Linked DNA regions of Homo sapiens: region 2 is linked to region 1. Evidence: fine-mapped expression QTL. A gene starts in region 1. The other region holds a variant in brackets. All regions are shown on one strand. Distances are between the middles of the regions. Region 1 holds the start of PLBD2 (phospholipase B domain containing 2). Region 2 overlaps PLBD2 (phospholipase B domain containing 2).

Region 1 (11,403 bases):
AGAGCTGAGACTAACATTCTTGAGTGAATGCTCTGCGCCTCTAACTCAACTCAGGTTTGTGGGGGAGTGTTGGGGGCAAGGAGGTATAGTTCTTATCAAATGCAGATGACAGCCATGAACTTCGGGCTAATTATTCACATAGCATCACAGATAAGGACAGAGGAAAAAACAAGGGGAAAAAATTAGATTTTTAAATTTCAAGGAGAATGGAAGACAAAGAGTTTGGGCTTGTGGGTCCCTCCGACTTGGTCTGAATCCCTGGGTAGATCCCTTACTGGTTGTGTACCTTTGGGCAAACTGCTTTACCTCTCGGGGCCTCGGTTTTCTCATCTGTAAAATGGGCAGAGTGACTCCCCCTTCAGAGGACTGCTGTGGCATGTGCCAGGAGAGAACACACATTATGCACTCACTAAGTATTTGTCTCATCAAGAATCTGAGAGGAGATGGCGCAGTGGCTCATGCCTGTAACCCCAGTGCTTTGGGAGGCTGAGGTGGGAGGATCACTTGAGACCAGGAGTAAGAGACCAGCCTGGACAATAAAGCGAGACTCCCCTCTCTACAAAAAATACAAAATAAATTAACCAGGTGTGGTGGTGCTTGCCTATAGTCACAGGAGGCTGGGGCTAAGATGGGAGGATCGCTTGAGCCCAGGCTGCAGTGAGCTATGATCACACCACTGTACTCCAGTCCAGACAATAGAGCAAGATGCTGTCTCATTAAAAAAAAAAAAAGAATCTGAGGGGGTAGGAGTTTGAGGAGACCCGGCGAGTGTGATGATGGGAGGAAGATTATAACAGGGCCCAATATGCAGATCCCCTCGTGATAAAAGCTGGCAGTGGATCAAAGGAGACCTCGGACAAACTGCGTAAAACCAAAAAAGCTGTGCAGCCGCGAGCCCCAGTAGTAACTGAGCGGCCAGTGGCCTCCTCCAGGGCACACCTGGTGAGAGCTACCCCTTCTAGCAAGGGTGGGCTCAGCCAAGGCCTCGGCACTGAGGCCCCGGAGACGGGCAGTGGTTAGGAACCCATTCCCTGGCCGGATGCTCATACAGCCCTGCAGAGATGGGCATAAAGGCCCTTCTTCACAGCAGGACTTCTCTTCAAAGCCAGAAAAGACGGGCCTTCCCGAAACACCCATCATTAGGGGCCTGATACAATAATCACACATGCCATAGCGGACTGCATGTGCTGATGAGCAAAGAGGTCAGAGATGAAGTTCAAAAAAAAGTCGAGAAGTCCAAATGGTAGGCACGAACTAAGCCCCTGTGTAAATGCATCACACACCACATATGCCTCTACATTTATATGTATGCAAGAAGGTTTAGGCCTCTTTATGCATAGAAAATTCTGGAAGAAAGAGCTAAAAGTCCGGGTGCAGTGGCTCACGCCTGTAATCCCAACACTCTGGGAGGCTGAGGCGGGTGGATCATGAGGTCAGGAGATCGAGACCATCTTGGCTAACATGGTGAAACCCCGTCTCTACTAAAAATACAAAAAATTAGCCGGGCGTGGGGGCGGGCACCTGTAGTCCCAGCTACTCGGGAGGCTGAGGCAGGAGAATGGCGTGAACCCGGGAGGCGGAGCTTGCAGCGACCCGAAATCGCGCCACTGACTCCAGCCTGGGCAACAGGGCGAGACTCCACCTCAAAAAAAAAAAAAAAAAAAGCTAAAAATGTTTATATCTAGGAAGAATGGTAGGGGGAGGCTTTTACTTCCCATATCCCATCCCCTCTTTCTAAACTGCTAGAAATTTGTTTTGTTTTGTTTTGTTTGAGATAGGGTCTCACTCTGTCACCCAGGCTGGAGTGCACTGGCGTGATCACAGCTCAGTGTAGCCTCACCTGGACTCAAGCAGTCCTCCCGTCTCAGCTTCTGAGTAGCTGGAACTACAGGCACGCACCACCGTGCCCAGCTAGTTTTTTATATTTTTTGCAGAGATAGGGTCTCACCATGTTGCCCAGGCTGGTCTCAAACTCCTGGGCTCAAGCAATCCTCCTGCCTCGGCCTCCCAAAGTGCTGGCATTACAGGCACAAGCCACAGCGCCCGGCCAGAAAAACACTTTAGAGTGTGTCTATAACTAGATGTGCTTATTAAAGACTACTCTTCGGCCAGGCACAATAGCTCACACCTGTAATCCCAGCACTTTGGGAGGCTGAGGTGGGCAGATCACCTGACGTCAGGAGTTCAAGACCAGCCTGGCCAACATGGTGAAACCCCATCTCTATTAAAATTACAAAAAAAAAAAAAAAATTAGCTGGGTATAGTGGCTCACACCTGTAATCCCAGCTACTAGGGAGGCTGAGGCAGGAAGATCACTTGAACCCAGGAGGCGGAGGTTGCAATGAGCCAAGATCATGCCACTGCACTCCAGCCTGGGTAACAGAGCAGACTCTATCTCAAAAAAAAAAAATAAATCAAAAGAAGATTACTCCTTATTCAGAGAGTATGTCCTTTCTGCTTGTTTGCTCTAAAATTGCCAATCTTTTATGAGATAAACGCTGACAGGGGTTGACAAATATTGCTCTCCTTTGTTTTTAATGCACTTGCTTGACAAAAATTAAAAGTTGGCAGCAGTAGGTCTGTTTCCTCAATCTTTTTTTTTTTTTCCTGGAAAATCTATGGGCCAAATTGCAATTTCATGCCAGGGGCAGCTAATGTCTCTAAGATGACTCAAGAGTCTAATCAAGGTGCCTCTTGAAAGAGGCCACATTGGAAAAAGTCAGACCACTGATATGAGCAGGGGGCCACAAATATCTCACAAATATCAGCACCCCACTTCCGCAGTCTAGTATGGCCTTGGATGCTCTCCATTATGTGGGATGCCCCCCATAACTGTGTCTATCACTCCTATCTCAGCCTTTTTTTTTTTTTATTTGAGACAGGGTCTCACTCTGTTGCCCAGGCTGGAGTGCAGTGGCACAATCACAGCTGACTGCAGCCTCGACTTCCCAGGCTCAAACGAGTAGCTGGGACCACAGGCATGCGCAACCACACCCAGCTAATTTTTTACTTTTTTTTTGCAGAGACAGGGTTTCACCACATTGCCCAAGCTGGTCTCGAAATCCTGGCCCCTCGCCATCCTCCTGCCTCGGTCTCCCAAAACATTGGGATTACAGGCATGAGCTACAGCGCCTGTCCTCCTTTCTCATTCTTGATGGTATAGATTCATCTCCTGTGATTGTTCAAAGAAACAGCTGGGCCTTATTTATCCATTTTACTGGGCTGTTTTTGCCTGTTGGTTGGTGGATTTGGGATGCTTCCCCGTTTACTAAATTTGTTAATTCCCTCTAACTTTGATTCACTTCCTCTCTCAACGGGATGGTGATTTACTTTAAGCAACCTCGTCGATAAGGTGCTGGTCAGTGGGATCAGATCAGGGAAGGAAGACAAAGTAAGGTTGGAGGATACAGCTTCCCCAGGACCAAGGCCAGAGCTAGACTGAGGCAGGCTCTGCTCCTAGTGACATCTCTGATCTCCAAGCACCAAATCATAAATGTTTCCAGGCTGTGTGGGGGTGTTGGCCCAAAGTCAAGATATGGCACAACTGAAAGAAGGTACCGAGCACAGTGGCTCACATCTGTAATCCCAACATTTGGGGATGCTAAGGTGAGAGGATCACTTGAGCCCAGGAGTTCAAGACCAGCCTGGGCAACATGACAAGACCCCTGTTTCTACAAAAAAAAAGAATTTAAAAATTAGCCAGGCATGGGGGTGCGTATCTATAGTCCCAGCTACTTGGGAGGCCGAGGTCGGAGGATTTCTTGAGCCTGGGAGTTCAAGGCTGCAGTGAGCCATGATCATACCACTGCACTCGAGCCTGGATAACACAGGGAGACCCTGTCTCAAAAAAAAAAAAAAAACAAAAAAAAAAAAACCTTTTTTAAAAAATAAAAAAGACGAAGGATTATGGTGTAGGGAGAATTTATCCTGATAATCCCAGGATCCCCAGTGGCAAAATCTGGGGATTTCACCAGGAAGGAGGAGGATCCTAATTCTGAGTGAACAGAGGCATCAAATCCCTGCCCCCACCCTCCGAAATAAGACACAGAGTCCCCCACAGATCAGAGATTCTGCTGATCAGGAGCCAGGACACCCCCTATGGCTTTCTTTCATCTGACCCTGAGTCCTCAAGCAGCTGTCTCTGAGGACCTCAGTTTCCTGCCTATAAAATGGGGCTCGCTTTATGGTTTTCCCTGCATCAGAGCCTCAAGGGCTGGCAAACTCAAAGGGAAAGGGGCATGTGAGCGTAAGAGGAGGGGATGAGAGAGGGTGCCGAAAACAAGCCAGAAAGTCCAAGATGGGCAGATCACCTGAAGTCAGGAGTTTGAGACCAGCCTGGCCAACATGGTGAAACCCCATCTCTACTAATAATACAAAAATTAGCCGGGCATGGTGGCACACACCTGTAATTCCAGCTACTTGGGAGGCTGAGACACGAGAATCGCTTGAACCCAGGGTGGGGAGGTTGCAGTGAGCCAATATCGTGCCCCTGCACTCCAGCTGGGCAACGGAGTGAAACTGTGTCTCAAAAAATAAAATACAAATAAAAATAAATAAACAGTGCTTTCTGTGACCCCAGTGAATTTCCATGACCCTTTTGGTCCTACCTTGATATGAGGGAACATGCTCAGAGAGGTGAAGGGATTTGCCCAAGGTCACACAGCAGAGGGGCTGAGCCTGGAAGAACTTTCCATCCAGCACAATCAAGGAAGCCTTCTCTCCACTTCCATGTTTACCATAGTCAAGAGCAACACAGCCCAGGAGGGGCCTCCAGAGGCCAAAGCCCCCTCCCCATGCTGGGCCTCGCTCCTGCCCCTCCTCGCCTGAACAGTTCTGTCATGTCCTCTTGATTCTGCTATGCAGGGCCAAAAACATGAGTGAGTCAGCAAAGAACGGGTCACCAGATCCAAGAGTCCCGGCAGCCCCCGAGGCCAGCCACAAAGCTTCAGTTCCCTCCACAGATGCCAGCTCACTCTGTGGCCTCCTCTCTCTGGGAGCCTTCCCAGATTTACCCCAACCAGTGCCCCTGTGTCTGTGCAAATATCTCCCCCAAATCTCACGTCTACTTGATGTACCCCCCAAGTGCCACCAGAATGGGGGTGTCCTCGGCATCCTGTGTCTCCCTAACACCTGCAGAAGCCAATGGATGCCAGTAAAATGGATAGGGGCTAAAGTGGGAGGAGGCCCTTTCTGCTGCAGGGGGCAGTGTGGTCTGAGCACAGACCACATCCTGGGCACATCCTAGTGCTAGGGTTCCCTAGCATCATCTGGACACTAGGATATGACGGATGCACCCCGGGTTCCCTAGGATCCCCCAGCACAGCCTGATCCAGCGTCTGGGCCCTGCTGACAAGGCTTTGAAGCTGATCCTTCCCACTCCCACTGACTCTGATTTCTCTTCTATCGCTGTCTGTGTTTCCCACTGAGTAGAGACAGCTGCTCAGCTGTGTCCCTAAGGCCAACCATCAGGGTAATGAATAAATGAATGGGCACAAGCCCTTGTACAGAACTTGCAGCACATGACCACCCAACTAGAGCACATCCTCAAAATCTGGGCCACAGATGGGGAAACGGGAGCCCAGACAGGCGGAGGAGTTAGGTGAGACTCACACATCAGAATGACAGCCTGGGTTCCAGCAATAAAGATGGTGAGCATGGCTGCCAAACACGGCATCCAGCCAAGGACTTCCCCTTGGACCAGGACACAGAAGACAAGGGAGGAGCAGAGCCCTAGCAGGATACTAAATGGGTCTATGTGACTTTAGGGACCCTCTGCTTTTGGACTAGCCTGGAACCCAGGTTCAGTCCTGCTGACCTGGCACTGGAAGGGAGGCAGGGTGCTGGCACCCACGAGCAAGCCACAGCCAAGCAGGTAAGAATTAGTCTCCTGCTGAGTTCTCATCACCCCTCAGGCCTGGGGACAGGGGGCTGGCCTCCATGGGGTGAGGAGGCAAAGTCTAGGGAAGGGAGCAGGTCCCCGTGAGGATAGAATTTACCCACCAGCCATGGACCTGATCCAGATGCAGGCACTGCGGCCTCGGTGGTAGGGAACTGGCTTCTTGGGGACAGAAGTACTGTCACCACTGGCTGAAGGCAAGGGACTGGCCCCATGAGGTGAGGGATGCCGCAGTAGCCAGCTCCCAAACAGGGTACTTGGCCCGCAGGGCGGTGCTGCAGCCTCGGGAGTAGCTGACCCCCAGAGAAACGGGCGTTCCCACCCGGCAAGAGGCCGGTCCCGGGAACAGGCGAGGTCCGGCGCCCACGCATCCCCCTCCCCCGATGGCCCCGCGTGGGGATAAGCCAACCCTTACCCAGTCTCGCGGATGGCGTTGGTGAGGTTGGCCCAGGCCACGGCGTCAGGGTGGCGTCCGTCCACCATAAGCAGCTGGCCCGCCGAGACGTCCAGGAGCACCGAGCGGCTGCGGGAGGCTGGAGGGACCTGCCCATCGCGCGCCCAGCGGCCCCCCGGCGCTGGGATCGCCCCCGCCAGGCCGCTCAGGAACGGCCCGACCAGCAGGGCCAGCACCAGGGCCAGCGCCAGCGCCCGCGTCAGCGCCCGGGCCAGGTGGCTGCCGGGGTAGCAGTACATCTGGCCCACCATGACCGCACAATGCTGCGCCCCGCAGCCCGGGTCACGTGACTGCGCTCTGCCATGGGCGGGGCCGAGGGCGGGCGGGGCCGGGCTTGGGCTGAGCCTTTCCGGGATGGGAGGGGCTGGCGCGAGGGGAGGCCTACGGGGCGGGACCCACCTTAAAGAGCCCGGCCGCCCCTTCCACCTACGCAAACCCGGTTTAGCACACTTCCCCAAGTTTTTTTTTTTTTTTTTTTTTGAGACAAGACAAAACCTCCATATGTCGCCCAGACTGGAGTGCAGTGACGCGATCTCGGCTCATTGCCACCTCCGCCTCCCGGGTTCAAGCGATTCTCCTGCCTCATCCTCCTGAGTAGGTGGGATTACAGGCGCGCACCACCACGCCCAGCTGATTTATGTAATTTCAGTACAGACGGGGTTTCGCCATGTTGGCCAGGCTGGTCTTGAACTCCTGACCTCAGGTGATCCGCCTGCCTCAGCCTCCCAAAGTGCTGGGATTACAGGGGTGAGCCACCGCGCCCGGCCAGATTTATTTAATGGTATTTGCCATTTATTTAATACAGTTATCTAATGCAGTCTTTATTCCAACTTTTCCCATTGTCCCTCAAATACCCTTTTTACATGTGTGTGGGAAAAAGCTGTCTAACTACTACTCAAAACCTAGATGCCGTCGGGCGCGGTGGCTCACGCCTGTAATCCCAACACTCCAGGAGGCCAGGGCGGGCGAGTTCAGGAGTTCAAGACCAGCCTGGGCAACATGGTGAAACCCCCGTCTCTACTAAAAATACAAAAAAGTAGCCGGACGCAGTGAGGCGCGCCTATAGTCCCAGCTACTCGGGAGACTGAGGTAGGAAAATCACCTGAGCCCGGAAGGTCGAGGCTGCAGAGAGTCGAGATTGCACCACTGCACTCCAGCCTGAGCAACCAGAATGAGACCTTGTCTCAAAAGAAAAAAAAAAAAAAAAAAACCTAGATGCAATAAAAGATTAATGCATTTGACTGTATAAATTTTTTAACTTTTTCATGTCAAAAAACTCAATAAGCAAAGTCAAAAGACATCTGACAGACCAGGAGAAACTATTTGCAACATATATCATATATATACATTACATATATATATGTATATATATCTCAACATATATCATATAATATATCAGGAACTCTTAAAATTTGAGAGGGAAGGCCAGGTGAGTGGTTCATGCCTGTAATCACAGCACTTTGGGTGGCCAAGGTGGGAGGAATGCTTGAGCCCAGGAGTTTGAGACCAGCCTAGGAAACCTGGCAAGACTCTGTCTCTATAAAATATAAAAATTAGCTGAGCTTGGTGGTGCACACCTGTAGTCCTGTTGTGGGAAACTGAGGAACGGAGAGACCAATATGAGAGAACAGGAGGATGTTTATTTCAACGTACGCACTGGCTCAGTGGATTCACATCCAAAAAGCTGAGCCTAGAACAAAGATATTGTGGGGTTTTTATAAGCAAGCTTAGAAAGGTAAAACAAAAGTAGTTAATCATATAGTGCATAACTTGTGGCCTTGCATAGCTGGTGGCCTTGTAGCTGCATCAAAAGTAAAACAAGAACTGGCTAAATAGAGAGGTTTGTAAAACATAGTCATGCTTAAGAGACCAAGGAAAGGAATAGCAATAAAATAATTTGTCTTTCTCTCTTTTTTTTCCTTCAACCTTGCTCTGGAGGCGGGCGGTGGGGTGGAGGGCGGGGTCTGGAGCCCAGTCCTCTGGCCTTGGCTTTTCGGACAGCGTTATCTTATAACTGTCCTTGAAGTGAGCTGCTAAGCAGAGGAAAACTTGTTCTTCTTCTTTTTTAACCCTTGCCTTGCCACATTCTGGGCCTTAGCTCTTACTTCTCTTGGAGTGAATATATGTAGTACTTATTATTATTATTATTTTAATTTCTGCCTCAGTCCCAGCTACTGGGAGGCCGAGGGGGGAGGATTGCTTGAGCCTAGGAAGTCGAGGCTACAGTGAGTTGCACTACAGCCTGGGCAACAGAGCAAGAAGTTGTCAAAAAGGAAAGAGAGAGAGAGAGAGAGAAAGAGAGAGAAAAGGAAGGAAGGAAGGGAGGGAGGGAGGGAAAGGGAAGGAAGGGAAGGAAGAAAGGAAGGAAGGAAGGAAGGAAGGAAGGAAGGAAGGAAGAAAGAAAGAAAGAAAGAAAGAAAGAAAGAAAGAAAGAAAGAAAGAAAAGGTTTGAGAAGGAAAATGTGAAAACCAGACAGAAAACATGGGCAAAAAGCATCAGCAAATAATTCATGAACAAAGATGTAGAAGTGACCATTATATTTATGAAAAATGCTTGCTTCATTCACTATAGGAGAAATGCAAATTAAAGCTACACTGAAAATAAACATTCAGAGAAATATATGGTGAGAGAGCGTATACCCTGAATGGTACATTCAGGGTAACATGAAGCGATGCTCCTAAGTGCCCAACCTCAATCTTCGGGTGAAAACAAACTCTATACTTAACCATTCAAAAAAGAAGAGGCCAGGTGCAGTGGCTCATGTCTGTAATCCCAGCACTTTGGGAAGCCGAGGCAGGCAGATCACGTGAGGTCAGGGGTTCAAGACCAGCCTGACCAACATTGTGAAACCCCATCTCTACTAAAAATACAAAATAATTAGCCGGGTGGTGGCATGTGCCTGTGGTCCCAGCTGCTGGGGAGGCTGAGGCAGGAAATTCGCTTGAACCTGGGAGGTGGAGGTTGCAGTGAACCGAGATCATGCCACTGCATTCCAGCCTGGGCGACAGAGTGAGACTCTGTCCAGAAGAAGGAGAAGGAGAAGAAGTAAGAAATATACAGTGAAAATAGAGTGCATGTAAAGACTGCTGAAATAAGGTCTGTAATTTAGTTTTTTGATTTTTGTTTTCTTGGGTTTGAGACAGGGTCTCACTTTGTCGTCCAGGCTGGGATGCAGTGGTGCAATCATAGCTCACTGTAGCCTCAATCTTTCAGGCTCAAGTGATTCTCTCACCTAAGTCTCCTAGGTAGCTGGGCTACAGGCATGCACCACCACACCTGGTTAATTTTTTTGAGTTTTTGAAGAGATGGAGTCTTACTTTGTTGCTTGACTGGTCTCAAACTCCTGGGCTCAAGCGATCCTCCCACCATGGCCTCCCAAAGTGCTGGGATTTGTAATTTAAAGTACCATATCAGGCCGGGTTCGGGGGCTCATGCCTGTAATCCCTGCACTTTGGGAGGCCATGGTGGGAGGATCGCTTGAGCTCAGGAGTTCAAGAGCAGCCTGAGCAAGATGGTGAAACCCCATCTCTACTAAAAATCCAAAAAAAATTTATCTGGGCATGGTGGCACACGCCTGTAATCTCAGCTACTCGGGAGGCTGAGGCACGAGAATTGCTTGAACCTGGGAGGCGGAGGTTGCAGTGAGCTGAGATTGTATCACTGCACTCCAGCCTAGGTAACAGAGTGAGACCCTGTCTCAAAAAATTTTTAAAAGTTAAAAAAAAAGTTCCATATCAAAGTCAATTTCCTGATTTTGATATTTATACTCTGGTTACATAAGTTGTTATCACTGGGAGAAACTAGATAAAGAGTACATGTTTTCAAAAACAAAAACTTTAGGGCCGGACACAGTGGCTCACGCCTGTAATCCCAGCACTTTGGGAGGCCGAGGCGGGTGGATCATGAGGTCAGGAGTTCAAGACCAGCCTGGCCAAGATGGTGAAACCCCGTCTCTACTAAAAATACAAAAAAAAATTACAGCATGCCTGTAATCCCAGCTACTCGGGAGGCTGAGGTAGGAGAATCGCTTGAACCCCGGGGGCGGAGGTTGCAGTGAGCTGAGATCGCACCACTGCACTCCAGCCTGGGTGACAGAGCAAGACTCCCTCTCAAAAAAAAAAACAAAAAAAAAAACTTTAAATAAACTACACTGAGATATCATTTCTTTCTATGAGATTAAAAAAAAAAAGTTTAGAAGCTTGACAACATACCCTGTTGGTGAGCCTGGAGAAACAGGCACATGCACGTTGCTAGTGGGTATGCAAAAGACAGGAAGAGTAATGTCTAACAAAACACCAAGGGCATCTACCTCTGACCCAGCAATCCCACCTCTAAGTATTTATCCATAAGGTTATTTATTGCAGCATTGTTTGTAATTTTAAACTGTTGGAAACACTTTCAAGCCCATACATAGAAGCTTCATTAAATAAACCACACAACAGCTGGGAAATGGAATACTATGCAGCTATAAAAAAGAATGAGGCCGGGTGCAGTGGCTCACGCCTGTAATCACAGCACTTTGGGAGGCCGAGGCGGGTGGATTACAAGGTCAGGAGTTCAAGATCAGCCTGGCCAATATGAGGAAACCCCATTTCTACTAAAAATACAAAAATTAGCCAGGCATCGTGGCAGGCGCCTGTAGTCCCAGCTACTCGGGAGGCTGAGGCAGGAGGATCACTTGAACCCAGAAGGCGGAAGTTGCAGTGAGCCAAGATCACACCAATGCACTCCAGCCCAGGTGACAGAGTGAGACTCCATCTCAAAAAAAAAAAAAAAAAAAAAAGAGAATGAAGAGGCTGGGCACAGTGGCTCATGCCTGTAATCTCAGCACTTTGGGAGTCTGAGGTGAGAGGATCACTTGAGCCCAGGAGTTCAAGACCAGCCTGGGCAACATAGTGAGACCCTGTCTCTGAAAACAAACAAACAAAAAAATCCATTCAACTCAATAGAATGGAGAAAACCCCTAAAGATGAACACAAAGAGAAACAAATAATCCTGACTGTATTTAAATAAACATAAGCACACTAAAAGGAATGGGGGTCTGGGGAGAAG
Region 2 (11,403 bases), 30 kb before region 1:
TGTGTGAATTCAATAATGCTTGTGAAGTGCTTGGCACCTAACACTTTCTCAAGAAGTACTCAGGGCGCTTGTTACTAGCAGGGAGGACTATTTGAGAATTCCACATAGGGCCGTGGGACTCAGTACTCTCCCAGGAGGACTCCTTGGAGGAGGTGGCCTTAATCCTGAGCCTTGAAGGACACAGCAGGATGTGGGCAGGCAGAGTGGTGCTAAGCTTCATGAGGGTTAACCAGGTAGCGGTTGTAACCCGGAGCAAAAGCAGGGAGTCCTAGCAGGGAACAACAAGGGTCCTCTTAGGCATTTGCTCCTGACTTAGTGTTGATCAGAATATGACGCTGTGCCGAGGCAGGAGGATCACTTGAGCCCAGGAGTTCAAGACCAGCCTGGGGTCGGGCATGGTGGCTCATGCCTGTAATCCCAGCACTTTGGAAGGCCGAGGGGGGTGGATCACCTAAGGTCAGGAATTCGAGGCCAGCCTGGTCAACATAGTGAAACCCCATCTCTACTAAAAATACAAAAATTAGCCGGGTGTGGTGGTGGGCACCTGTAGTCCCAGCTACTCGGTAGGCTGAGGCTGGAGAATTGCTTGAACCCGGGAGGCAGAGATTGCAGTGAGCTGAGATCGCACCACTGCACTCCAGCCTGGGCAACAGAGCAAGACTCCGTCTAAAAAAAAAAAAAAACAAAAAAACAACAAAAAAACAAACAAAACAAAAACCCGCCTGGGCAACATAGTGACACTCAGTCTCAAAAAAATTAAAAAAATGATACTAAAGAATATACTATATGATGTCAATTCAAACACTCTGCACCTTATTAGAAGACCCCACTTGGTTTGGGGATCCCTGAGGCTTTTCAGGGTTTTACAGCTGCAGAGGTGATACCTGTCCCCCTGCCCCCAGATGCATTGCCTTCTCTGTCTCACATCCATCTCCTTCTCTCCCTCCCTGCCCCCATCTCTCTCCTGTTTCCCCCACTCCCATCCTCTTCTGGGTTCCCACTTCTCTCAGTGTTGCCAAGGCCCTGGGCGTGAAGACTGTGGGGGCTCAGGCCCTGAAGCTGTTTCAGGAACACCCCATTTTCTCTGAAGTTATCTCGGACCAGGAGGCTGTGGCCGCCATTGAGAAGTTCGTGGGTATGTGCCAGGTCCTCCCATGACCTGACCTGCTGACTCAGGCGCTAAGTGGCTGTCCACTTGGTATGCCACTGGGGATCCCACTCACCCCAAGTTTCCTTCACAGTTCTGTCTTCCACCTCTGCCTAGAATTTTCCATTAATAGAAGATAATACAATGCCGTGTAGAAATAGAAAAGCAAAAGCCACACATAATGGAAAAGTAAATAGAAAAGTAAGCCTGATAACCATAGCAGCAGAAAACAATAAGTGAATATTTAAAATGTTGCTTCTGAGTTTCCTGGCAGCCAGGGTAAAAAAAGGAAAACATGGGGCTCAGAGTTTGATTCATTCAGAGGTGAGTCTGTAACTAGGCTGGACTCTTTCTGGGTTCCGTCTAGGGCAGGGATGGCAAAAAAGAGAGAAAAAAATAGTACCATTTATGCTTCTGTACCTGCTGCACACTTGGCTAATCAACCATGGAACTCTTGCTCAGATGATGCCTCAGAATCCTTCTCAACACAGTGCTCACGCAACCACACTCATTCTATCAGTGTTAGCACTCATGATGAAACCCAGGCCCTGGCTCAGGCTTGGAAGGGCCAATTCAGGCCGATGACGGGACGTTTGGTTCAGGACCTGCGGCTGCAGCCAGGGCTGAGAGCTGATTGGCTCAGTATTCCCAGGTCCTGCCAATGGCCTGTCAGCTCCTGTGCACCCTGGGAAACTCAGGCCACGCCCCTGTCACGCCCCTTCTCTGGCAGATGATGAGAAGATCCTGGTGGAGCCCGCCTGCGGGGCAGCCCTGGCCGCTGTCTATAGCCACGTGATCCAGAAGCTCCAACTGGAGGGGAATCTCCGAACCCCGCTGCCATCCCTCGTGGTCATCGTCTGCGGGGGCAGCAACATCAGCCTGGCCCAGCTGCGGGCGCTCAAGGAACAGCTGGGCATGACAAATAGGTTGCCCAAGTGAGGACGGACCCCTTACCGATCTGTGCTCTCCTAGCCCAAGAGACCCCTGGAGGGGCTGGAGTTTTATCCAGCGCCTCGTCGTATGTTTGGCTGAGCACCTGTGGCCTGGGTGCAGGTTAACTTCTTGTTATCAGGAGCCCACTATGCAGAGGCCAAAGGTCGGCAGCCAGCGAGGCTATGAATTGGACCTTTTTGGTATCTGTGTGACTGCTCTGTGCCCATCCTTAGCCAACTTGCTGGCGTGACAAGTGCCCACAAGTAACACACCAGGTACCCAGAGCAGGGTGGACAGGAGAGACCTGAATCACAGCAGTGAGGAATTCCTCAAAGCTGTGACCTCGCCCCTGAACTTGTTCCCAGTGAAGGTCAACAGGGCCACCAACCAGGGTTGAGGAACCATCTCAGCCATCCTCCCAGGAAGCCCACCCCTGACCCTTACTAATTTTTCTAATGTGCAAACTTTTTCATTGAAAAATAAAATATATTTATGAAACAAAGATCCTGTGCATTTTCCCATCATCAGCTGTCTCCTTTCCTGCTTTCCTTCCACCCCAAGTCTGCTCTCAGCCCCAGCTCTCAACTGGGGCCCCAGAGTGAGGCCAGGAGCCTGACTCCAGCTAGTCTTGCATGCCAGGACAGGGGCATCCCTGTACCACAGGAAGCAGGTGGCTAAACAAGAGGGACTTGGGGTGGGACAAAGGCTGCCTCCGCTGAAGGCAGAAGCAGCTGGGGAGGCCAACTTCATTCTGATATGAAGTCCTTCCTACTAAGTCAGAATTATTTCATCACAGACCCAATGGAAGCAAAGAAGTGAGGCCCCCTCCCCTGGGCGTGTGTGAGCTGACACTGGACACCCATCTCTGGGAGAGGGAAAGGGTGGGTGGACTTGAAGTCAATGTCATGCAAACCCTCCTCAAACATGGAGCCCTCTCTTCCAACAAAAGCATATGCTGAAGCCCGTATCATAGATCAAAGAGGAATTACTGGGGCTGGCTCCAGAGCATGGAGGGAACCCCACCCTCAGGGTACTTTCTGGATGACCCCAAGTTCAAACTGAAGTTTAAGAGTCACTCAGGGCTGGGCGCAGTGGCTCACGCCTGTGGGAGGATCGCTTGAGCCCAGGAGTTCAAGACCAGGCTGGTTGGCACAGTGAGACTCTGTCTCTACAAAAAGGAAAAATAACTTGAACCCAGGAGGCAGAGGTTGCAGTGAGCCGGGATTGTGCCATTACACTCCAGTCTGGCGACAGAGTGAGACTCCGTCTCAAAAAATAAATAAATAAATAAAAAGGAAAATAAGATAAAACCACAAGTCAATTCCCAACCCCAGACCCCAACCTTGCTTTATTTTCTCCACGGGTTTACCAGCACTGACACACTGCATATTTCATTTATTTTGTTTACTATCTAGTCAATGTAAACTTCACAAGAGCAGGAATGCTTCTGTCCCTTTTGTTATAAAGTATCCCCGGGACCTCATAACAGTGCCTGGCATGTACTAGGGGTTCAATAAGTGTTTGCTAATAAAGAGATGCTGAGTGCATGAGGCCCCAAGTGGGCTGCATCACATCCCCCAGGGAAACGCTGCTCACACCATTACCCCATTTCACAGATGAGGTAATCGAGGCTCAGAGAGGAGTCCATAGCTAGCTAATAAGAGGTGGAGACAGAATTGAAACCCAGGTCTCTGACTCCAGGGCTGTGTGCTTTCCTCTCTCCAAGCACACAGCACTGGGAGAGTCTTGTCTCCAAGGCAGGCTGCATGAGATCAGACAGGGAGAGAGCCTTTTTTTTTGTATCTGTCTGTATACCACAATATGGCTTAGGAAGGTCTTGGTGGTTAACAAGGCTCCCAAATAGGACCCAGAACACAGGTGCTCAATAAACATCTGGATGGATAGATGGATGGATGGATATGAATGAATGGATGGCTGATGGATAGAAAATAGATAAATATGGATGCATGGGTGGATATTAATGAATCTGCACAGACCCGTGTGTGGATGGATGGGTGATAAATGAATAGGTAGGTGGATGGACGGGTGGGTGGGTGGATGGATGAATGGATGGATGAGTGGGTGGATGGATGGGTAGATGGGTGATAAATGGATAGGTGGACGGATGAGTGAATGGGTAGATGGGTAGATGGATGGAAATGAACAGATGGAAATGGTTGGATGGGTGGATAAATGGTTGGAAGGATGGATGGATGGGTGAGTGGGTAGATGGATGATAAATGGATAGGTAGGTGGATGGATGAGTGAATTAGTAGATGGGTAAATGGGTGGAAAATGAACAGATGGAAATAGTTGGATGGGTGGATAAATGGTTGGAAGGTTGGATGGATGGGTGAGTGGGTAGATGGATGATAAATGGATAGGAAGGTGGATGGATGAGTGAATGGGTGGATGGGTAGATGGATGGAAAAACAGATGGAAATGTTTGGATGGGTGGATAAATGGTTGGAAGGATGGATGGATGGATGGGTAAATGGGTGATAAATGGATAGGTAGGTGGATGGAGGAGTGAATGGGTGGACGGGTAGATGGATGGAAAATGAACAGATGAAAATGGTTGGATTGATGGTTGGATGGGTGATTGGATGGATGGATGGGTGGATGGGTGACAAATAGGTAGGTGGATGGGTGGATAGGTGAGTGGGTAGATGATTGGGTGGGTGGATGGATGGATGCGTTGGCAGATGGGTGGATGGATGAATGGATAGGTAGTTGGATGGGTGGGTGGATGAATGGGTGGGTAGATAAATGGGTGGGTGGATGGGTGATAGATAGATAAGAACTTCGTAAGCCATGCTGTGGTATACAGACCAATACAAAAAAGGATCCCTCCCTGTCTGATCTCATAGGTGGATGGATGAGTCAATGGCTGGATGAGTAAATGGGTGGGTGGGTAAGTGGATGGAAAATGGACAAATGAGGCCAGGTGCGGGGGCTCACATCTGTAATCCAAGCACTTTGGGAGGCCAAGACGGGCGGATCACTTGAGGCCAGGAGTTCGAGACCAGCCTGGCCAACATGGTGAAACCCTGTCTCTACTAAAAATACAAAATTAGCCAGGCATGGTGGCTCATGCCTGTAACCCCAGCTACTTGGGAAGCTAAGGCAGGAGAATCGCTTGAACCCAGGAAGCAGAGGTTGCAGTGAGCAGAGATTATGCCATTGCACTCCAGCCTGGGCAATAGAGTGAAACTCCCACTCAGAAAAAACAAAAACAAAAAAAAAAGAAGAAGAAAGAAAATGGACAGATGGAGATGGCTGAATGGTTGGATGGGTGGTTGGATGGGTGAGTGGATGGATGATAAATGGATAGGTAGATGGATGGATGGATGATGGAAGACGGATGGGTGGGTGGAAGGCTGTGCAGATGGATGATGGGTGAGTATGTTGGCAGATGAATGAATGGACAGAAGGACAGACAGAGGGCTGCACAGGAGGCTGCATGGGGGATGGCGCAGAACCCAAACCTGAGAGGAGAAAAAGCGCTGACCCCACCTTCCCTGCCACCCCAAGAAGCACAGCATGGGGCCACAGCCGCTCTTGTTTAATGGTGGCACAGCCTGCGGTCTGGTTCCTCCATCAGGGCGCTGTGGGTATGGCCCTGAGGTGAGGGGCAGGCCTGGGGTGGGGTGGGGTGGGGCCTGAGGCAGAAGCATGGGGGCTGACCCTCTGCCTGACATGGAGAGAGGACATTCAGAACCCTCCAGCCACAGATGGCCAGAAACTTTGGTTTGTGTTTGTTTTCAAGTTTCTGTCCTCAAGGAAGCTGCCCAGAAAGGGAGACGAGGGGACTGCTTCCTGAGGGAGCAGAGGGGCCAGAGCTGGGAGGAGCAATGCCAGCCGAAGACAACGCCCAGACAAAGCTCACCAGCTCCAGGGCCACCCGTGGGAATGCAGCTGGGAGAAGGGTGCTGGAACAGGCTCCTTCCACCCCATGGGAGCCCCAGAGTCTGCCCCAGGACCTTCCCAAACCCTCAGGAAGGAGAAGCACGAGGAAGGGGCCCCAGAGGTGGGAATGAGGTTGAGAGAGCAGCAGTAGGAAACAGACAGAAACAGAGAGTGGGAGATTTAGGGCAGGGCAGAAGAGACGCCACGGTGCCCACCCACCTCGGGGGAGAGAGGGGGTCAGTTCTGAGCCCCATCAGGTTCGTGACCCACTCTAGGAGGAGATGACTCAGACCCCAGATCAGAGAACGAAGCCCCCAGGAGGGGCTGGAGTTAGAAGTCCGGTGGCCTTGGGACGGGGGTGACCCTGACGAGGGTCAGCAGGGGCGAAAGCAGCAGAGCA[G/C]GGACAGAACTTCAGTCCCATGAAACCTTGACAGGCGCGAACTTCCAGAGGTCTGGCTGGCCCATGTGCAGCAGGCCGCTGAAGGGCGAGGTGCTCCACTGGAACGGGGGCACCTGGTCCCACGTGGGACCGCTGGCCGCCAGCAGGCTCAGGATCCTGGCCAGTGACATGCTGGTCACCTGGGGACAGGGCAGAGCCGCAGCTGAGCAGGGGTCCTGGCCTGCCCCAATCCAGGCACCCAGCCTCCCACCCTGACCTTGACCCCAGAGCCCAATTCTGAACTGTCACTTTTTTTTTTTTTGAGTCTCTGCTCTGTCACCCAGGTTGGAGTGCAGTGACGTGATCTTGGCTCACTGCAACCTCTGCCTCCCGGGTTCAAGCAATTCTCATGCCTCAGCCTCCTGAGTAGCTGGGATTACAGACGCCCGCCACCACGCCTAGCTAATTTTTGTATTATTAGTAGAGACGGGTTTTCACCATGTTGGCCAGGCTGGTCTCAAACTCCTGACCTCAAGTGATCTGCCCACCTTGGGCTCCCAAAGTGCTGGGATTACAGGCATGAGCCACCGTGCCCAGCCCATACTGTCACCTTTACTGTGACCCCAACCACAGCCCAATTCCGACTGTGATTCCTGCCCCGCCATCAGCTTTGCCCCAACCTGTCCCTTCCCCAAAGCTGGTGATGGTGACTTCCCCCACCCACAGCTCAGGCCCTAGGGAGGAGGCAGCACCTTCACATCGATACCCCCATGGGAGCGCTGACGCAGGGCCTGGAAGGGGTAGGAGCCATTGGCCGGGTTGAGGTCGGAGCGGGCGGAGATAGCATTCTCCCCATTGGGCTGGGGGTTGCAGGCTTTGCACAGTGACAGAGGGTCATGGAGGAAGTCATTGTACCTGGATGGGGAAAAGGAGGGAACATCAGTCATCCCAGGAAGGAGAGGCTAAGACGGGGGCCAAAATCCTCACAGGCAGCCCCGTTAACAGCTGCCAGCCTTCAACTTGATGAGCCCCTCCCACTGCACACTACCCCCGACAGTTCCTCTGCCTGGGGCCCGGACCCCTTCACCTAAGTCACTCTGCCTTCATTATTCAGCTCTCTGCTCAGGCACTCATCCTCAGGGAAGGCCTCCATGCCACCACCCCAGCCAGGTGAGGCACCCGTTTGTTCCTGGATAGCCTCTCTTGGAACACAGCCATCTTTACACATTGACACCAGTGCAAGAACTTGATGGATTTCTGCACCGCCCAAGAGACAGGACAGTGGGGCACAGGTTTTCTACCTGTTGCTCCTGGTACCAAGCATAGTGCCTAGCAGTACAGGTCACTCAACAGATGTCTAGCATCCTCCCCTTAGCTATGAGGACAGTGACAGGGCCCAAGTGGAGAGCGGCCACCGAGCTGCTGCACTGGTGTCCAACATCTGACCACCCCCTGCTGGCCCTCTGGGGCTGGCAGCAAAGTTTGAATGAGTTGGTACAAAAAGCGCACAGGAAGTTCTGTGTTCCTGCGGCCTCCCTCTCCCCAACCCACCACCCAACTGGCACCTACCTCATCAGCCTGACCATGGAGTCCATGTCTTGTACCAGTGACTGGTTCCGCCGGAAGATCTGGGCCCGGGGGCTCCCGTCATAAGAAAACCAGTCCCCATACTGGGCCACTAGGGCCTGCAGCCCACTGGCATTGAACACAGTCTCGAAGGACCTGCCGGGGACAAGGATGGTCACCCATGACCCCCACTGGCCTCACTCAGCCAAGGCTGTGGCCAGGGAGGGGAGGGGCAGTCACACCAGGACATTATTACTTACAACTACGACATTCAGGCTGGGTGCAGTGGCTCACACCTGTAATCCCAATACTTTGGGAGGCCGAGGCGGGCAGATCACCTGAGCTCAGGAGTTTGAGACTAGCCTGGCCAACATGGTGAAACCCTGTCTCCACTAAAAATACAAAAATTAGCCAGGCACGGTGGTGTGTGCCTGTAATCCCAGCTACTCGGGAGGCTGAGGCATGTACTCACTTGAACCTGGAAGGTGGAGGTTTCAGTGAGCTGAGATCGAGCCATTGCACTCCAACCTGGGCGACACAGCGAGACTCCGTCTCAAAAAAAAAAAAAAAAAATTAGCCGGCGTGGTGGCACGTGCCTGTAATCCCAGCTACTTGGGAGGCTGAGGCACAAGAATCACTTGAACCCGGGAAGCAGAGGTTGCAGCAAGCTGAGATCGCACCATTGCACTCCAGCCTGGGCGACACAGCGAGACTCCGTCTCAAAAAAAAAAAAAAAAATTAGCCGGCGTGGTGGCACGTGCCTGTAATCCCAGCTACTTGGGAGGCTGAGGCACAAGAATCGCTTGAACCCGGGAAGCAGAGGTTGCAGCAAGCTGAGATCGCACCATTGCACTCCAGCCTGGGTGACAGAGCGAGACTCTGTCTCTAAAAACAAACAAACAAACAACAACAACAACAACAAAACCAACTATGACATTCGGGATAACAATAATGTCTTCCATTTGTGCTGGGGGGTGGCTTGGTGGGGTGGCCAAGCTTGGGCTCTGGGGCCCAAAAGGCATGGCATCAAATCCTGCCTTCAGTCCGGGTGTGGTGACTTATGCCTATAATCCCAGCACTTTGGGAAGCCAAGGCAGGCGGATCACTTGAGGTCAGGAGTTTGAGATTAGACTGGCCAACATGGTGAAACCCTGTCTCTACTGAAAATAGAAAAATTAGCCAAGGATGGTGGCTGGCGCCTGTAATCCCAGCTACTCAGGAGGCTGAGGCAGGAGAATCACTTGAGCTCAGGAGGCGGAGGCTGCAGTGAGCTGAGATTGCACCATTGCACTCCAGCCTGGGTGACAGGGCAAGATTCTGTCTCAAAACAAAAAACAAAAAACAAATCCTGCCTTCACCATTCGCCAACAGGGGAAGCTTGGGAAAGTGAGGTACTTTCTCAGGGCCTCAGTTTCATCATCTGTGAGATGGGAACAGGAACTCTAGTGACCACATGTGGCAATTTTAAGAGTCAAATGAGAAAATGCAGGTAAAGTAAGTGAGCCTCAGGAGGTGACAGCTGTACAGCCCAGTAAGGCAGATCCAGTCAGAGACCCTGGCAGGGGCCAGTCCCTGAGCCTGGCCACCCCACACCACCCTGCTCTGGGTGTTAGAACCAGAGGTCACATGGATGCTGACTTAAGCCATGCAACTACACTGCCAAACTGTCTGGGCTCTCCTGGCCAGAAAAGGGGGTAGGCTGGGATTCTTTGTTCTGTGGGTTTAAAAACATTGCCTAGGAAGGAGCTGGGCAAGGAGTGAGGTGGATGCCCTGGAGGGTGACGGGGAGCGGAGTGAGAAGGCACGCACGGTATGTTGTAGCTGGCCCAGTAGGTCTTCTGGTAGAGCTCCGAGGTCTTGTCAGCCACCACCACCATGCCGCTGAGACCGAGAAGAGAGATGGGGTGGAGGTGATCAGAAAAGGGGCTCCTGTGGGCACTGCCCTGCTCGGGGAGCCCCGATGGCTCCCCATTGCCTGGAGGATGGATTAAGTCCTGAACTTCAGCCCCCACCAGGGACACCTTCTCTTCCAGCCACACCCTCCTGAGATCGTTCACTTCCTGCACAGCGCCAGCACGGCTCTGGGCCTTCACCCTGGCAGTCCCCTCTGCCCCGAGCCCCCACCCCTCCCTCCCAGGGTACGCACGGGATCTGCTCCAGGATGGTAAGCACCCGGCTCCCGGGGCTGGGCCCACCCGGGATGAACGCCTTGTAGTCCACGATCATCCACTGGTTGTTATACCTGCCGGGCAGGGGAAGGGAGGACTGAACAGAGCCTGGAGCCACCTCCCCAGCTTTCCCCACCCTGCAGTGTCCCACTCAGCTAGGAATTACAGGAAGTGGGCCTGGGGTTGTCCAGCCATTCAACTGACACCCTGACGCTGCAGCATGACCAGGTATCCACAAACCCCTCTCTCGTCATGCTGCTTGACTGTTCCAGAATATTCTGTGGCTCCCTAGGTCAGCTCCTCTGCCGGATGCTGTAAGATCTGCACTGCCCAGTTCCAGTGTCTCTGGCTCACAGGCCCTGCCACCCACCCACGTCCACCTCCTCAAACAGCCCTCCCCACTGTCCCCTTGAGAGTCTTCAGGTTCCAAGTGCTCTTCCTGTACTGCCACCAAGGCACCCCTTCCTAGGCTGAGGAGCCTGCAGGGGAGGGGCAAATCCTTTCCTTCCCTAGCCTCAGTCTCCCCATGTATGAAACAAAGGAGGGCGTGGGGTGTGTGGCCCGGATGCCACATCTGGTCCCCAGGAGTGTGAGTGTTAAAGGGGAGGTTGGTCTATCTCTTGGTGCAGGGGAAGCCACAGGGCCAGAAGCCCACTCACGTGCCGCTGTTGAACCTCTTGAAGATGTCTGCCCAGGTGGCCCCATCCGAGGCCAGGCGGTTGGCCACGATGTTGCGTACCCACTCCAGCACACAGCCCCTGGGCCGCACATACTTCCACAGGGCTGGGTTCTTGTTGCCAATGGTGGTCTCCAGTGTCACCTGTGGGAAGGTCAAGGGGGCTGCTGCACAGCCTAGGCATGCTGCCACCAAGTGGCAGTACTTCATCAGTCATGGCTCCAAAAATTTTTTTTTTTTTTTTTTTTTTTTGAGATAGAGTCTCACTCTTGCCCAGGCTGGAGTGCAGTGGTGTAACCTCAGCCCACTACAACCTCCGCCTCCCAAGTTCAAGCAATTTTCGTGCTTCAGCCTCCCTAGTAACTAGGATTACAGGCACGTGCCCCCACGCCTGGCTAACTTTTGTATTTTTAGTAGAGGCAGGGTTTCTCCATGTTGGCTAGGCTGGTCTAACTCCTGACCTCAAGTGATCCGCCCACCTCCGCCTCCCAAAGTGCTGGGATTACATGTGTTAAATACTTACTTAATCTGCCGGGCATGGTGGCTCACACTTTGGGAGGCCAAGGTAGGTGGATCACCTGAGGTCAGGAGTTCCAGACCAGCCTGGCCAACATGGTAAAACCCT

Evidence for each region. PIP is the estimated chance that this variant, and not a neighbour inherited with it, causes the effect.
Region 2: its variant is fine-mapped to the expression of PLBD2 in whole blood (TOPMed, PIP above 0.99). The same link has a PIP of 0.9 or more in aorta and lung.

The regions. Positions count from the first base shown.
Region 1 is chr12:113,353,799-113,365,201 of GRCh38, reverse strand. PLBD2 (phospholipase B domain containing 2) reads right to left here and starts at 6,615. Exons shown (of 12, transcript NM_173542.4): 1 at 6,312-6,615. The coding sequence starts at 6,601. It overlaps LOC105369989 (a long non-coding RNA gene), which reads left to right and starts at 5,692. Exons shown (of 3, transcript XR_945346.3): 1 at 5,692-5,872. RefSeq lists enhancers at 991-1,491, 5,357-5,856 and silencers at 6,192-6,251, 6,302-6,801.
Region 2 is chr12:113,383,624-113,395,026 of GRCh38, reverse strand. PLBD2 (phospholipase B domain containing 2) reads right to left here. Exons shown (of 12, transcript NM_173542.4): 7 at 10,762-10,922; 8 at 10,081-10,176; 9 at 9,744-9,815; 10 at 7,938-8,090; 11 at 7,121-7,283; 12 at 3,398-6,568. The coding sequence ends at 6,401. It overlaps SDS (serine dehydratase), which reads left to right. Exons shown (of 8, transcript NM_006843.3): 7 at 1,011-1,135; 8 at 1,878-2,582. The coding sequence ends at 2,086. Among named protein-coding and RNA genes, the nearest start is that of SDS, 15 kb to the left of the region's middle. RefSeq lists an enhancer at 1,614-1,813. The variant G/C (reference allele first, on the strand shown) is at 6,390.